Regions from separate parts of the Homo sapiens genome. Here region 1 is linked to region 2. The links come from fine-mapping of genetic effects on gene expression. Tissue or cell type: whole blood. Region 2 holds a variant in brackets; the other region holds the start of a gene. All regions are shown on one strand. Distances are between the middles of the regions.

Region 1 (8,084 bases), 84 kb after region 2:
GGTGCTGGAAGCCGGGACTTACCTAGGTCCTAGGCCCTGCCTTGACGTGCAAGGGGAGGAGCCTGTGAGACTTAAGGTGTGCCGCACTCACCCCGAAGGCCAGACCTTCACTCCGCACACATCATACCCTTACACGAAGGATGCTGTTACTCTCATGCTGTACCCACCTACAGGGGGAGAAGGAGGCTTCTAGATCTCAGGGGCAGATGAGGGCCAGGTGGGGGCCTCATGCAGCCCTGACCTCGGGCTTGGTGTCCAGGCAGGAATAGAGTTGGAGCGGTGCCAGCAGCAGGCGAACGAGGTGACGGAAATTATGCGTAACAACTTCGGCAAGGTCCTGGAGCGTGGTGTGAAGCTGGCCGAACTGCAGCAGCGTTCAGACCAACTCCTGGATATGGTGTGAGGCCTGGGGGAGCATGGAGGGGAGGGGAGAGGATTGGGAAAGTCTCTCTTGGGCTGTATTCAGGATCTCCAGTTCCTTGGTGGGGTTGAGGCCTTCTTGAGGGCCAGTGTGGGGCCTCTGGGTTTCCTCAGGCACCCATAGCCTAGACATGCAACAGATAGACCCCACAAGATAAGAAGGCCTTGGTTTGAAGCTGTGGACCTTCTTAAAGGTAGAAAACTGGTATCGTTTTTTGTTTCTTTTTTACTTTGAGACAGAGTCTCACTCTGTCGCCCAGGCTAGTACAGTGGCACAATCATATTTGCTGCAGCCTCTACCTCCCAGGCTTAAGTGATCCTCCTGCCTCAGCCTCCTGAAGAGCTAGGACTACAAGCCTGCACCACCATGCCTGTCTAATTTTTGATTTTTTGTAGAGATGAGGTCTCACCATGTTGCCCAGGCTGGTCTTGAACTCCTGGATCCAAGAGATCCTCCCACCTTGGCTTTCCAATGTGCTGGGATTACAGGCATGAGCCACTGTGTCCAGCCTGAGTACTGGCATTGTTAACTGAGGGTGAGACACTAGGGCTGAAAGTCAAGGGCCACACCGGTGTTTGAGATGAGTCAGGCTGGGAGGGTTCCACGGCAGGTGGTATAGAAAGAGAGCAGACAAGGCCGGGCGCGGTGTCTCACGCCTGTAATCCCAACACTTTGGGAGGCCGAGGTGGGCAGATCACAAGGTCAGGAGTTCAAGACTATCCTAGCCAGTATGGTGAAACCCCATCTCAACTAAAAATACAAAAATTAGCCGGGCGCAGTGGTGTGCACCTGTAGTCCCAGCTACTAGGGAGGCTGAGACAGGAGAATTGCTTGAACCCGGGAGGCAGAGGTTGCAGTGAGCTGAGATTGTGCCACTGTACTCCAGCCTGGGTGACAGGGAGAGACTCCTTCTCAAAAAAAAAAAAAAAAGAAAGAAAGTAGACAAGATGGGGAGGATGCAGGAGGAGACTAAGCCTTACTGAGATGGGGTTGGGAGGAGCTGGCTCCCAGGCCAAGAGGGTGCCAGCTAACTCCCACTTTGTGTCTGGGGGTATCCGCAGAGCTCAACCTTCAACAAGACTACACAGAACCTGGCCCAGAAGAAGTGCTGGGAGAACATCCGTTACCGGATCTGCGTGGGGCTGGTGGTGGTTGGTGTCCTGCTCATCATCCTGATTGTGCTGCTGGTCGTCTTTCTCCCTCAGAGCAGTGACAGCAGTAGTGCCCCACGGACCCAGGATGCAGGCATTGCCTCAGGGCCTGGGAACTGACCCAGCTGGTCCTGAAGGAGAAGCCAAATGGCTGCACTGGCCGATTCTGGTCTCCAGAGGACCTTGGTGTTTGCTCTCCCTTGACCCACCCCAGTGAGTGCCAAAGGGCAGCCCCAACATGTGCACCCCTGCATTTCCTGTCATGCCACAGACTGGCCCTTGAGGGCAGCCTGCTGTACTGGCCATGCTGGGCCAGCCCCACCTGGAGCTCAGTAAAAACTGCTGTTTGATTAAAAGCTGGTATCTGTGTGTGAAGGTCCCCAGGTTGGTTAATCCCATCTGTCTCTACCCCTAGGGCTGCTTAAAAAGCCCATCACCCAAAGGACTCCACCCCTGGGAGATGGCTCCTTCCTCTCCCTTCCCTACTTGATCCAGCCCGACACAGACAGGGAGTGTGGATGCAAGAACACAATGGCCCCCAAAGCAGACCCTTGAACCAGTCCTCCCCATCTGAGCCTGTTTCTCTGAGAATGAAATCTATTATTTTTCTGTCATCTTGGGGATGCTTAGAGGACCAATGAGACTGTAGATGCGATGACAAAGAAGAAAGCACTTCACCAATTTTTTTTTTTTTTTTTTGAGACAGAGTTTTTGCTCTGTTGCTCAGGCTGGAGTGCAATGGCACTATCTCAGCTCACTGCAAACTCCACCTCCTGGGTTCAAGCAATTCTCCTGCCTCAGCCTCCCAAGTAGCTGGGATTACAGGTGCCCACCATCACACCTGGCTAATTTTTGTATTTTTAGTAGAGACAAGGTTTCACCATGTTGGCCAAGCTGGTCTTGAACTCTTCACCTCAGGTGATCCACCTGCCTCGGCCTTCCGAAGTGCTAGAATTGCAGGCATGAGCCACCGCGCCTGGCCCAAAAAATTTTTCATAAGGCTCTCACCTTCAGATAAATGGTTTCCCCTCTGAACACTTCCCACTCCTCAATTTCTCTTTCCACATTCTATCTACCTCAAGCTTTACATCAGACTGCAGATGGGGGAAGTGACAGCAAGAGATGGGGACCTTAAAGCACTCCTTGGTATTCCCATCTCCCTCCCTCCCTTCCTTCCTTTTTCGACGGGGTCTCTCCTGTGTCTTCTCTCCCTCCCTCTTTCGACGGGGTCTATGTTGCCGAGGCTGGTCTCGAACTCCTGGGCTCAAGCAATTCTCTTGCCTTTAGTGCTGGGATTGCAGGCGTGAGCCACCATGTCCAGCCTGAATTCAGGCTTTTCAAAGCTACAGGGCCATATAGGCCAGGGAGGCAGTGCCTTCAGGGCCATAGCAAAGATCATTGGGCAAAGGCATGGAAGAAGGAAATAAAGCCACACCAAGACTGTGGAAACAGGGCAGCCTCTGCCTGGGCTACTTAGCTGCAGTTCAAACTCAGGTGTGAGTGGCAAGGGGAATTCAGGGTCAAGTGTGTAAAATAAGCAGTTCCTTGCTGGGTAAAGTGAGCGCTACTGACAGAAACCAGAATAAGCCTGAGTTGTGTGGAGCTTCACCCCTTACAGAGCGTGTTAGTTTTACTGAGCGCATTAGCGTCTTCCTCTCTTGGGAAAGATGGAGGAAAGCACTTGGCCCTGCAGCTGGTCTGCAACACCACTTACAGACTGCAAATTTGGGCAAGCCACTTCTGAGGTAAAAAGGGCATAATGACGCTTAGCTCCTGGGTCTATTGAGGGGATGATCGAGCGTGTAAAACATACATCAGACTAACAGTTCTAGATGCTAAATAGTACCTATCATCCAAATCATTGAGTGCAGTGGTTCTTAAACCTGCTTCACCTGCATAATTTATACAAGTGCCATTGCCCAGGCCCCACCACAGATCAGTTAAATCAGAATCTTCGAAGGTATCAGACACGGGTGTTTCTAAAGCTCCTCCGCGCCCATTCTCTCCTCTGGGAATTCATGTGTAGCCAGGAATGAAAAGGTCTTAGTACAAGCCAGCAGTTTTACAGAAGCTAGGGATAGCAACGGGCTGAAGGTAACAGTCCCATGAGCTGGTTGAGGCCCCAGGTTCTCCGGCAAAGAGATCTCTCTCAGTTGGGGAGGCTTGCCCCACCCTTTATTATTATGCCTAACACATAAGAAATGCGCAGGAATCAAACGCAAACTGGTGAACCAACTAGAGGGCCGCGGGGGCAGAAGTGTCCGGCGGGGATCCGGACAGCGCATCCGGAAGCGCCATGGGCCAACGCTCGCAGGAACCTGAACCCCTGGGCCAGCGCCGCCTTTGCTCGCAGAGGCCTCTAGCATCTGTACTGTCGAAGCCCTCTGAGCTTCAGGGCAGACTGAAGAGCCTTACACACCAGACACTTGGACGCGATCGCGCCAGAAATCCCCGGGAATTCAGTCTTGGCTCCGACTCCAAAACAAATGATTCCTCACCAGCCAGATCTCCATCATTGGCGTTAGTCTCTGGTCACCTGACTTGTTCAAGCCAATGAGAGGGGGCCGAATTAGTACTTCCGCTTTCCGTGCTGTTTAACGAGCCACTATGCCCGTCCCTCGGATACTCTGATTGGCCAGCCTCTCTCAGCTCGTCAGTTTATTGGCCAGCGCCGCTAGGCCGCTATCGAGCAGGGTCCGAGGGCTGTGTCAGAAGGCTGGGCAGCCATGGCGTCCTATTTCGATGAACACGACTGCGAGCCGTCGGACCCTGAGCAGGAGACGCGAACCAACATGCTGCTGGAGCTCGCAAGGTGGGTGCGCGGGGCTTGGGGATAGGGTCCAACCAGCAGGTTTCTGGGCTGGGGCTGGCTGGAGAAGGCGGATTACCAGGGGCAGCGGATTCTGGGGAGGACAGATGAGTAATCTGGAGTGTTAGTACGGGCGGCGAGACTGAGGGGTGTGGGGATGAGCATCTCGATAATTTGGGCCGTCCGTTGGGCCGGCCTGGGGCAAGGGGATTGCGGGAAAGATTGGAGCTGGAGAGTGGTGGGCGTGGGGGCGGAAGGACAGCAGGCTCTGGGAGGTCTCAGAGAAGGTGAGGCATGGGGGCGGGGTTGGGGCCGTGTGCTGTGAGTGGGTATATTCATCAGTAACAGCAGGCACTGCTGTTACTGGACCTGGAATCTGGCTTGGTCTTGGAATCTGGGCTCTACCAGGTTATTCAGCGTAGCCTGAGTAACTTCTCTGAATCTGTTGCCTCATGTGTAAAATGGGAATAAACACTTTACGTGCTGGGGCGGTCTGATAGCAGTTGTAAACTATTTCCCATCGTGCTTTTTATCTAGTGAGCATCTACTAACTACTAAGGGTAGCTATTATTCCTACTAGCTGGGCAGCGTGTTTATTAATGTCCAGTGGATTATGGGGACAAAGAAAAAGCATAGTTTTCCTTTGTTCTGACTTTACATCCCCTTCCCCAGGTCACTTTTCAATAGGATGGACTTTGAAGACTTGGGGTTGGTAGTAGATTGGGACCACCACCTGCCTCCACCAGCTGCCAAGACTGTGGTTGAGAACCTCCCCAGGACAGTCATCAGAGGCTCTCAGGCTGGTGAGGACACTGATTCTTTCTGCTATTTGGGCCAGACCCACCCCTTCCCCAAGCCAGACTGTGGTCTGGTCCTTCAGTTTTCCAGGTCAGGTGGGGGCAAGTGTCCTTCAGGAGTGGGAGCTTGGGAGGCAGAGCCTGTAGCAGCTCTCCTGATCAGCACTCCTTCCTAAAGAGCTCAAGTGCCCCGTGTGTCTTTTGGAATTTGAGGAGGAGGAGACTGCCATTGAGATGCCTTGCCATCACCTTTTCCATTCCAGCTGCATTCTGCCCTGGCTAAGCAAGGTACTGCTTCTCTTCTTCTAGCTCTCACCGTGCCCTGGGCCCAGTACTCAAGCTTCTTTCTGTTCATGGACTGCTGGGGGATGGAAGAAGAGTGGCAGTTGGGAGCAGGGGAGGGTGGTTATCAGCTTATGAAGATCAGACCAAGGCTAGAACACTACTCTACTTTTCTCAGACAAATTCCTGTCCCTTGTGCCGCTATGAGCTGCCCACTGATGACGACACTTATGAGGAGCACAGACGAGATAAGGTAGGGGCTGATGCTTAAGTGGAGGGGTCGTAATGGGCTCCCTGAGTCCTGTCCCCGCTGCCATCACTTCCCACCTCAGCAGGACTGGGTAGGCCTCAGAATCCCTGGCTCTGGCTGTCTTCTTAGTGACTTTGATTTGTGGTGAGAGCCTCAGCAATGCAGACGCCAGAGGCCTGAAAACAGAGCCAGCCCCATAATAGCTGCCCATCCCCTCACCCATAGGCCTTCAGTTTTGGCCCCTGCCCAGCATGCCTTCTTTCCTTCAGGCTCGAAAACAGCAGCAGCAACACCGACTGGAGAACCTCCATGGAGCCATGTACACGTGAGGAGGTTGGGGCTGAGTGCTGGCCCTCTGCGTCTTCCTTATTAACCTTGAATCCTCATTAAAGGTTTCTTTACCCACCCTGAGGCTGTATTGATCACAGACCTGGCCAGGGGCTCTGCATCCTCCATCAGGTCTCTACTTCTGTTGGGGAAGGTGATCCTAAATCGCAGAAGGCACCAGGCTGCGGTTTTCCTCCCTGCTGGCCCATCTGGACTCATGGCAGTGGTAAAGAACTGGATTACTGCAATAGCCAGGGCTTGGGCCTATGTGTTCATGGTTGGAAGGCAAAATGTGTCAGGGTCTGGTACCCAGTTAATTACTTAAAGCTGATAAACTAGGCTGGGTGCAGTGGCTCATGTCTGTAATGCCAGCAGTTTGGGAGGCCAAGACAGGTGGATCACGAGGTCAGGAGTTCGAGACCTTCCTGACCAACATGGTGAAACCCCGTTTCTACTAAAAATACAAACATTAGCTGGGCATGGTGGCACGCACCTGTAATCCCAGCTACTTGGGAGGCTGAGGCAGGAGAATTGCTTGAACCTGGGAGGCAGAAGTTGCAGTGAGCTGAGATCATGCCATTGCACTCTAGCCTGGGCAACAAGAGCAAAACTCCGTCTCAAAAAAAAAAAAAAAAAAAGCTGATAAACTAGCCTGCACCCTCCTCCCACTGCAATGTCTAGTTAACTTTGTAATCCCACAGGTTTTCTTTTTGCTCCATTGAGAAAGCCACTTTTAATATTTTAAAGTTGCTCTCTGTACCACCCCCACCTTCCCCCCATGCCTCCTAAGGAATCAAAGTTCAAACCAGACTCTGAGTGGGGGATGGGTGAGATTATCAGACCAAGTTAGTTCTTTAGATTGCTTAGAGGCCCAGAAGGGTTTCAAGCCCTTTGAAGGGGTATTTGGGTGGCACCTGGCATCCTTTGTTTCTGGCAACAGAGTGCACTCAGCACTCCTGGGGGGCAAGGGCTTCCTCCCATCCTTGGCTTATGGAAAGCCATCCCAGATCAGGCCCCCCAACTCTCCAGAACAGGCTACAAACATGCAAATTAGAATTCTTTTAATATAAAAAAAAGTACTAAAATACCCACGTGGTTCTGCTGTGTTATTTGCCCTAAAGGAAGTGAGGGGCAGAGTGAAGAATCCCAGTGCAGCTCAGTGGGCCCAGAAATGGGCCTTTCCGTAGGCTAAGGCGTGCCCACTCCACCTCCACCAGACTTCTATCCCCTCTGCTGTTCCCAGCCCCCAATTCCTGCAGCAGGAAACCCCAGTGGTCTGGCTTTGGCACTGGGAGTAGAAGGCACCTGAAGGGCTGGCTGGGTGAGTGAGGACAGGTGACCTTTAAAAACAAAACGACACCGTGGGGTGGGGAAGCAGGTCATGCAGCTGTGGCAGCTGGCAGGGCCCACTCCTCCATGGCACAGGTGGGCATGGGATGGCCACTTCTCCAGAAGTGAGGAAGCCCAGATCCCAACAGAATACTTTCTCAAAATTGTTTTTGGTACGAAATAAATGGAAAGAAGATATGGGGTGGGGTGCTGTGGAGGCCGGGCCAGCCACCCTCCCCAGACCTTAGATCATAGCGATGCTCTCGGGGGCACAGTTGAGGTGGGTGGAGGTGCTGCTGCTCCCGGAGGACTTGCAGGCCCGGCCAGGGGTAGGCTGCAGTGCAGCCACCAGTGTGTCTGAGGAGACTGCCCCAAACTCGTAGCTGAAGGTGCCATAGAAAATGAGGATATCGATGACACACACCCACTCACACAGGGCTGCCCCATGTTGCAGCTGAGAACTCTCATGGACAAAGAAGACTCCACCTAAAACGAGGCTAAGGAAATGTTCAGTAGGACATACGGAAACCTGGCAACACCCCTTCTGCAGTCTCAGGCCTCACCTCTCCAAAGGGAGAGGTGTTAGTCCTCTCCCCCACATGGCAGTGTTAGGCCTCCACCCCCCATCCTCTTGGGAGGGAGAAAGGTTGAGCTAGAGGATGAGTTCCTGGCTGCCCCGTCCTGAAAGGATACTGAGGACCAGGGTGATAAAGGCGAT
Region 2 (8,101 bases):
TTCCTCTTGATTCCCTAACCGCTCTTTACATGTTTATTTTATCTCTATCAGACTATGGGCTCTCACAGATGAAGACCATACTCTTCCTGCAAAACACTCGGTCCCACAGCACATGTAATATCTAAGAGGAACCTGAGAGGTCACTGGTCTAATCCCCTCATCAGACAAAAGAGGACCAGACTCAGAGAGAGAGGCACGTGCCATAGCGACACAGCCAGTTTCTTTGGAGGCCTGGTCTCAGCTCTGGACTGCTCAAGCCTATCCTTGACAGTGGCACTGCTCAGCCTGGACATTTAGAGTGTCCTTCTGATACAAATGTATTGAGTCTCTGCCCCTGAGCTAGAAAGATGGCAAAACAAAGATAAGAAAAGGCCAAAAAACCAAGCTCCCTAACATTAAGGATATTATAATTCAGAGGGAAAGATAGGGCACTCTCACAGACAACTAGAATACAAGCAGAAAGTGAGGATGAGTTGCAAGAGGCATACACCTAGTTGGGAAAGAGCCTGCTGGGGAGATGGACCAAAAAGGGCTCCACTGGGATTAAGCCAGCCCTTGAATGGGGATCAAAATAATGCAAATGAAGTCAGAGGCACTGAATCAGTTCATTTATTTAACAAACACTGACTACCATGTGCCAAACAAGGATCTAGATACTCAGGAAACACATCTCTACTAGCCTCATGGAGCTTACATTCAAAGAAGGGTAGGGGACAGGCACTAAACAAAATATATAAGTAAAAGTAGGTTAGATAGGCTGGTGGGAATGTAAAATGATGCAGCCATTATGGAAAGCAGTATGGTGGTTCCTCAAAAAATTAAACATAAAATTACCACTTGATCCACCAATTCCACTTCTGGGTATATACACAAAAGAATTGGCCGGGTGCAGTGGCTCATACTTGTAATCCCAGCACTTTGGGAGTCCGCGGCGGGCGGATCAGGAGGTCCGGAGTTCAAGACCAGCCTGACCAACATGGTGAAACCCCATCTCTACTAAAAATACAAAAATTAGCTGAGCGTGGTGGCGCACGCCTGTAGTCCCAGCTACTTGGGAGGCTGAGGCAGGAGAATCGCTTGAACCTGGGAGGCGGAGGTTGCAGTGAGCTGAGATCTTACCCCGGCACTCCAGCCTGGACAACAGAGCGAGATTCCATCTCAAAAAAAAAAGAATTGAAAGCAGGGACTCAAAGAGATATTTGTATACTCATGTTCATAGCAGTATTATTCACAATAGCCAAAAAGTGGAAGCAACTCAAATGTCCTTTGACAGATGAATGGATAAACAAACTATGGCATATACAGACCATGCAATATTATTCAGTCTTTTTTTTTTTTTTTTTTTTTTTGAGATGGGGTTTTGCTCTTGTTGCCCAGGCTGGAGTGCAATGGCGCAATCTCGGCTCACTGCAACCTCCGGCTCCCAGGTTCAAGCAATTCTCCTGTCTTAGCCTCCAGAGTAGCTGGGATTACAGGCGTGCACCACCACGCCCAGCTAATTTTGTATTTTTAGTAGAGGTGGGGTTTCACCATGTTAGTCAGGGTGGTTCAAACTCCTGACCTCAGGTGATCCACCCGCCTGGGCCTCCCAAAGTGCTGAGATTACAGGCGTGAGCCACCACGCCTGGCTAGTCAATCTTAAAAAAGGAACAGAATTCTGGCTGGACATGGTGACTCATGCCTGTAATCCCAGCACTTTGGGAGGCTGAGGCGGGTGGATCACCTGAGGTCAGGAGTTCAAGACCAGCCTGGTCAACATAGTGAAACCCTGTCTGTACTAAAAATACAAAAATTAGCCACGTGTGGTAGCATGCACCTGTAGTCCCAGCTACTCAGGAGGCTGAGAAAGGACAATTGCTTGAACCTGGGAGGCGGAGGTTGCAGTGAGCCGAGAGATTGCGCTACTGCATTCCAGAATGGGTGACAGAGTGAGACTCCACCTTAAAAAAAAAAAAAAAAAAAGGAATGAAATTCTGACACAAGCTACCACATGGATAAACCCTCAAAGACACTGTGCTAAGTGAAATAAACCAGACATAAAAGGACAAAGATTGGCCAGGCTTGGTGGCTGGCCGGGCGCAGTGGCTCATGCCTGTAATCCCAGCACTTTGGGAGGCTGAGGCGGGCAGATCGCCTGAGGTCAGGAGTTCGAGACCAGCCTGGCTAACATGGTGAAACCTCGTCTCTACAAAAATTAGCAAGGTGTGGTGGCAGGTGCCTGTGATACCAGCTACTTGGGAGGCTGAGGCAGGAGAATCGCTTGAACCCAAGAGGCGGAGGTTGCAGTGACCCAAGATCGCACCACTGCACTCCAACCTGGGCGACAGAGCAAGAATCCATCTCAAAAAAAAAAAAAAAAAAAGAGAGAGAGAGAAAGATCCTAGTGTTACAGTTACATGAGGCACCTAGTGTAGTCAAATTCATAGAGACAGAAAGTAGAATGGTGGTTACCAAGGGCTGGGGGGAGTGGGGAATGGGGAGGTAGCGTTCAAAGAGTATAGAGCTTCAACAGTTGAGGAAGATGCAAAAGGTCTGGAGATGGATAGTGGTGATGGTTGCACAACAATGTGAATGTAATTAATGCCACCGAACTGAAAACTTACAAACTATTAAAATGGTAATTTTTGTGTGGTGTATATTTTACCACAGTGAAATAAGTAAATAAAATAATAGGGAAGGGAGTAGGTTAGATGGTTTAAGTGTTACAGGAAAAAAATGAATAAATCAGGGAAGAGGGATGGGGTACCGGAGTGAAGCATCAATGTTAAACAGGGCATCCAGGGTGGCCAGGGAAAGTCTCACTGAGAAAGCAGCATATGAATAAAGATCTGAAGGAGGTGAGGGAGTGAGCCATATACGGCAATCTGGGGGAAGAGTGGTCCAAACAGAGGAATCAGCAAGTGCAAAATTCCTGAGGCAGGAATGGCAATAGGGCCACTGTGCTAGAGCCATTTTCTTTATTTTATTTTATTTATTTATTTATTTATTTATTTATTTATTTATTTATTTATTTTTGAGACGGAGTCTCGCACTGTAGCCCAGGCTGGAGGGCAGTAGCAGGATCTCGGCTCACTGCAAGCTCCGCCTCCCGGGTTCACCCCATTCTCCTGCCTCAGCCTCCGAAGCAGCTGGGACTACAGGCGCCCGCCGCCACGCTCGGCTAACTTTTTTGTATTTTTAGTAGAGACAGGGTTTCCCCATGTTACCAGGATGGTCTCGATCTCCTGACCTTGTGATCCGCCCACCTCGGCTTCCCAGGGTGCTGGGATTACAGGCGTGAGCCACCGCGCCAGGCCATTTTATTTTATTTTATTTTATTTTATTTTATTTTATTTTATTTTATTTTATTTTATTTTTTAGATGAAGTCTTGCTCTATCGCCAGGCTAGAGTGCAGTGGTGTGATCTCGGCTCACTGCAACCTCCGCCTCCCGGGTTCAAGCGATTCTCCTGCCTCAGCCTCCCGAGTAGCTGGGATTACAAGCATGTGTCACCATGCATGGCTAATTTTGTATTTTTAGTAGAGACAGGGTTTCTCTAGGTTGGTCTTGTCTCAAACTCCTGACCTCAGGTGATCCACCCACCTCGGCCTCCCAAAGTGCTGGGATTACAGCACTTCACCATGTTGGCCAGGATGGTCTCGATCTCTCGACCTCGTGATCCGCCCACCTCGGCCTCCCAAAGTGCTGGGATTACAGGCGTGAGCCACCACGCCCGGCCAACTCTGTGCCTCTTTGATCAATTCCAGTGGTACCAGGTAAACTGCTTATGAGTGAAATTTAGAAAAACCTCCCCCAGCAGTGGGGGAAAATGCACAGTGCATAAGGCCTTATTTGGGTGAGGAGTTGGGGGAGTGAATGTATTAACCTTGTAGTGAAGTCACCTTAGATTCTAGTAGTTATGCTTCTTTCAGGAATATGACCACTCAGACCATAAAAGCTGGATGTGACCATGGTTTCATTTCTTTGGAAATGATTCTGCCAGAACAGGAACTGAGAATTTTTTCTCTGTGACCTCTGGGTGAGTTTGTGTTCCATGAGAACATTGGGCTTTGCATTTCTCAGTACACTGCTCTCATAGCTCTTGGGTTTGGAAGAGGTCACTGTCATCAAACTTTTTATGACTTTAGCCCTCAGAGAACCAAGGATAAAGGTGAATAAAGAACGCATCCAAGGTAGAAAGCTCCAACACCCCCGAGATGTTTACTTTCTATAAAACCTGGAGTCTCATGCCAGAGGGATTATATAAAAATAAAGCCAGGGTAGCCAAGTGCAAACCGTAGAGTTATCAACAGTGCTGTGAGATGAAGTCTTTTGTTCAAGGTCCTTTAATTGCCAGATGCAAAAGATAGTAAAATGGATTCTTTTATTCTTGAAACTTTGCCAGCCTCGTGGCTAATGCCCACTACAGCTGCATTAAAGGCTCTGAGGATCTCTGCCAAGATGTGATGATGGCCAAGAACCAGTGATGACTTCAGGGGACCTTTCTCAACCTGCCAGCCCTGCCATCTTGGCCTAGCCCACAGGCCACTGCCTGACCCAGTCTGATTTATAGCTCCCATGGGATC[G/T]CTGTCAAAAAAGGATCCTATGGGATCCTTCCATAGAGGCTAATATTCACAGAACGCTTTAGAAAACGAGCTTAAAGTTTAATGTTGAGGGATGTTGTGGGCCAAAGGGTGGTCCTGAAGGGAACTTCTCTGAAATTCTGTGCTAGGAGCTAGGACTCAGGCACAGTGTTATGTGTCTCAGGCACAGTGTTATGGAAAGAGCATAGGATCAAGGGACAAGAAGTCCGAGATCAGTTTTTTTTTTCAGCTTTATTTCAGTATAACTGGCAAATAACAACTGTACATATTTAAGGTGTACAACTTAACGGTTTTTTTTTTTTGGAGGGGGTGGGGTTGTTTTTTTTTTTTTTCTTTTATTTTGTTTTGAGACAGAGTTTTGCTCTTGTTGCCCAGGCTGGAGTGCAATGGCGCGATCTTGGCTCACTGCAACGTCTGCCTCCCGGATTCCACCAATTCTTGTGCCTCAGCCTCCCGAATAGCTGGGATTACAGGCGCCTGCCACCACACCCGGCTAATTTTTGTATTTTTAGTAGAGATGGGGTTTCACCACATTGGCCAGGTTGGTCTCAAACTCCTGACCTCAGGTGATCCACCCACCTCTGCCTCCCAAAGTGCTGGGATTACAGGCATAAGCCACTGTGCCCAGCCCCTGTTTTTCATTTTTTTAGAGACAGGGCCTCTCTCTGCTGCCCAGGCTGACTGCAGTGGCACAATCTCGGTTACACTGCAAACTCCACCTCCCAGGCTCAAGTGATCCTCCTGCCTCAGCCTCCCAAGTAGCTGGGACTATAGGTGCATGCCCCACACCTGGCTATTTTTTGATTTTTTGTAGAGATGAGGTCTTACTATGTTGCCCAGGCTGGTCTCGAAATCCTAGGCTCAAGTGATCCTCCCACCTCAGCCTTGAAAAGTGCTGGGATTGCAGGCATCAACCATCATGCTGGTCCAACTTAATGTTTTGATATAGGTATACATTATGAAACAATCACAATCAAGACCATTAACATATTCATCACCTCACATAATTATCTATTCATTATTATCATATTATTATTATTATTTTGAGACCGAGTCTTCCTCTGTCACCCATGCTGGAGTGCAGTAGCATGATCTTGGCTCACTGCAGCCTCTATCCCCGGGTTCAAGTGATTCTTGTGCCTCAGCCTCCCAAGTAGCTAGGATGACATGCATGTGCCACCATGCCTGGCTAATTTTTGTATTTTTAGTAGAGTCGAGCTTTCGCTATGTTGCCTAGGCTGGTCTCGAACACCTGGCCTCAAGTGATCCGCCTGCCTCGGCCTTTCAAATTGTTGAGATTACAGGCATGAGCCACCATGCCTGACCTATTATTTTTTATTTTGTTTTGTTTTGCTTTGTTAGAGTCTCACTCTGTCGCCCAGGATGGGGTAAAGTGGTATGATCTCAGCTCACTGTAACCTCTGCCTCCCGGGTTCAAGTGATTCTCCAGCCTTGGTTTCCCAAGTAGCTGGGACTACAGGCGTGCACCACCATGCCCAGCTAATTTTTGTATTTTTTAGTAGAGACGGGGTTTCACTATACGTTGGCCAGGCTGGCCTCGAACTCCTGACCTCAGGTGATCCACCTGCCTCGGCCTCCCAAAGTGCTGGGATTACAGGCATGAGCCACCACGCCCGGCCCTACTATTATTTTTTTAAAGGAAGTCTGAGGTTTACTCATGGATTCACCTCTGTGCTGGATATCTTCTGTTGCCTACTCCATCCGGGAGCCACTCCCTACTCTCTCTCTTCAGTGCCCAGGAGACTGACCTGTGTAGAAACCTCAGCAGGCTCCCTTGCCCTCTGGCTTCCAATAAGGCCAACGAGGGTCTCCTTTAGGGGATCAGAAGGAGGGAGGACAGAGGGGTTGGGTGTTAATTATCCTGAGTTCTTAGACCTAGGAGGTCTCTGTGCACTGACACTGCAGGCCTCTCCAGTTCTGGTGACCTGGCCCTCCTTCCTCCCTCCATGGCAAGCCTATGTAGCTCCCCACAACAACACACTGTCCCTGTGGCTTCCCTGCACCCTGCCCCTATTTTTGTAAAGAGTTCCTTTATTAGGTTCTGCTGAAATTACCCAACTGGAGTGTGCCCTCTGTTTCTTGCCAAGACCCTGACCAATGCAGCCACCAATGAGTCCAGTGACCCTGGTCACACCACTTAGGCCCCGTGGCTTTGGTTTCTTCATCTTTATTTATTTTTAATTTTTTTATTTTTTAAAATTTTATTTTTATTTTTATTATTTTTGGGTTTTTTTGAGATGGAGTCTCGCTCTGTGACCCAGGCTGGAGTGCAGTGGCAAGATCTCGGCTCACTGCAACCTCCACCCTCCAGGTTCAAGTGATTCTCTGGCCTCAGCCTCCCCAGTAGCTGGGATTACAGGCACCTGCCACCATGCCCGGCTAATTTTTGTATTTTTAGTAGAGACGGGGTTTCACCATGTAGGCCAGGCTGCTCTTGAACTCCTGACCTCAAGTGATCTGCCCACCTTGGCCTCCCAAAGTGCTGGGATTACAGGCATGAGCCACCGTGCCCAGCCTAAAATGCCAGTTCTTACACACTTGCTTCACGGGGCTTTCATAAGGATTATAATAGATATAAAGCACTAAACAAACATAATCTTTAAAAAAAAAAACATAATGTGCTTTCTAAGTTTCACAATTCCAGAATGCGTAAAAATAACAAGTTGTCTTTTATATCAAGATGCTGCTGCCAATACGCAACTGCTCAAATATGAACTCTGAGCAGTTTTTCTAAAATTCACGATGGTTTTTATTGAGTACGCAAAAGGCTAAACTAGATTTCACTCTGATAAACATAATGATATTACGTGACCCAATAATATTAAATCCTAAAATCTATCCCAAACCCAGGCAGATAAGACAGCTAAGATAAAAACATTTTTAATATGTTGTACCCAACAGGGTAGTAATGATTTGTATTTTATTAGAAAAACTCTAAATAAAGACATTAGTATATTTTTCATTTTAGAAAAACAAAAACAGCTTTGTTATCACCATTGGCTACCAAGATATGGTGCTGGAAAAAATATATTGCTAGATTTAAAAGATAGGTCCCCACTTTAAGTGCAAGTTTTGATGCATTCTGTGTGACCTTAAGCAAAGCATTTAATCCTTCTAATGTTTTTTATCAGGTCTGTATTCAGGTGAGAGTCTCTCACTTAAATATTAGATCAAAGTGAAAGTCCTTTGTAACTGAAATTGGGCTATTTGTAATTGATCCCCCAAGGCTTCTTTAAATACTGTCATCTCTGATTATTCGTATCTGATTAAGATATGGAGAGGAGGCACTGAGGGCTGCCCTGATTTGAGATTCACAGGGGAATGGCCCTAAGTCTTTGAGGAAGACAGTGAGGGGACCAGGCAGAGGGCCAGAAGTCCCAATTGAATTGACCTAGCAATTTTTTTTTTTTTAAGAACCGAGTCTCACTCTGTCATCTAGACTGGAGTGCAGTGGCGAGATCTTCGCTCACTGCAACCTCCGCCTCTTGGGTTCAAGC

What was found. PIP is the estimated chance that this variant, and not a neighbour inherited with it, causes the effect.
Region 1: it holds the start of RNF181, and the variant in region 2 is fine-mapped to the expression of RNF181 in whole blood (TOPMed, PIP 0.96).

The regions. Positions count from the first base shown.
Region 1 is chr2:85,591,466-85,599,549 of GRCh38, forward strand. RNF181 (ring finger protein 181) reads left to right here and starts at 4,280. Exons shown (of 5, transcript NM_016494.4): 1 at 4,280-4,384; 2 at 5,054-5,184; 3 at 5,357-5,466; 4 at 5,639-5,713; 5 at 5,980-6,243. The coding sequence starts at 4,299. The coding sequence ends at 6,039. VAMP5 (vesicle associated membrane protein 5) reads left to right here. Exons shown (of 3, transcript NM_006634.3): 2 at 260-397; 3 at 1,483-1,941. The coding sequence ends at 1,692. TMEM150A (transmembrane protein 150A) reads right to left here. Exons shown (of 8, transcript NM_001031738.3): 7 at 8,060-8,084; 8 at 7,082-7,852. The coding sequence ends at 7,611. RefSeq lists enhancers at 1,227-1,728, 1,729-2,228 and a silencer at 4,172-4,311.
Region 2 is chr2:85,507,190-85,515,290 of GRCh38, forward strand. No RefSeq gene overlaps it. Among named protein-coding and RNA genes, the nearest start is that of PARTICL, 28 kb to the right of the region's middle. RefSeq lists a silencer at 6,159-6,338. The variant G/T (reference allele first, on the strand shown) is at 4,566.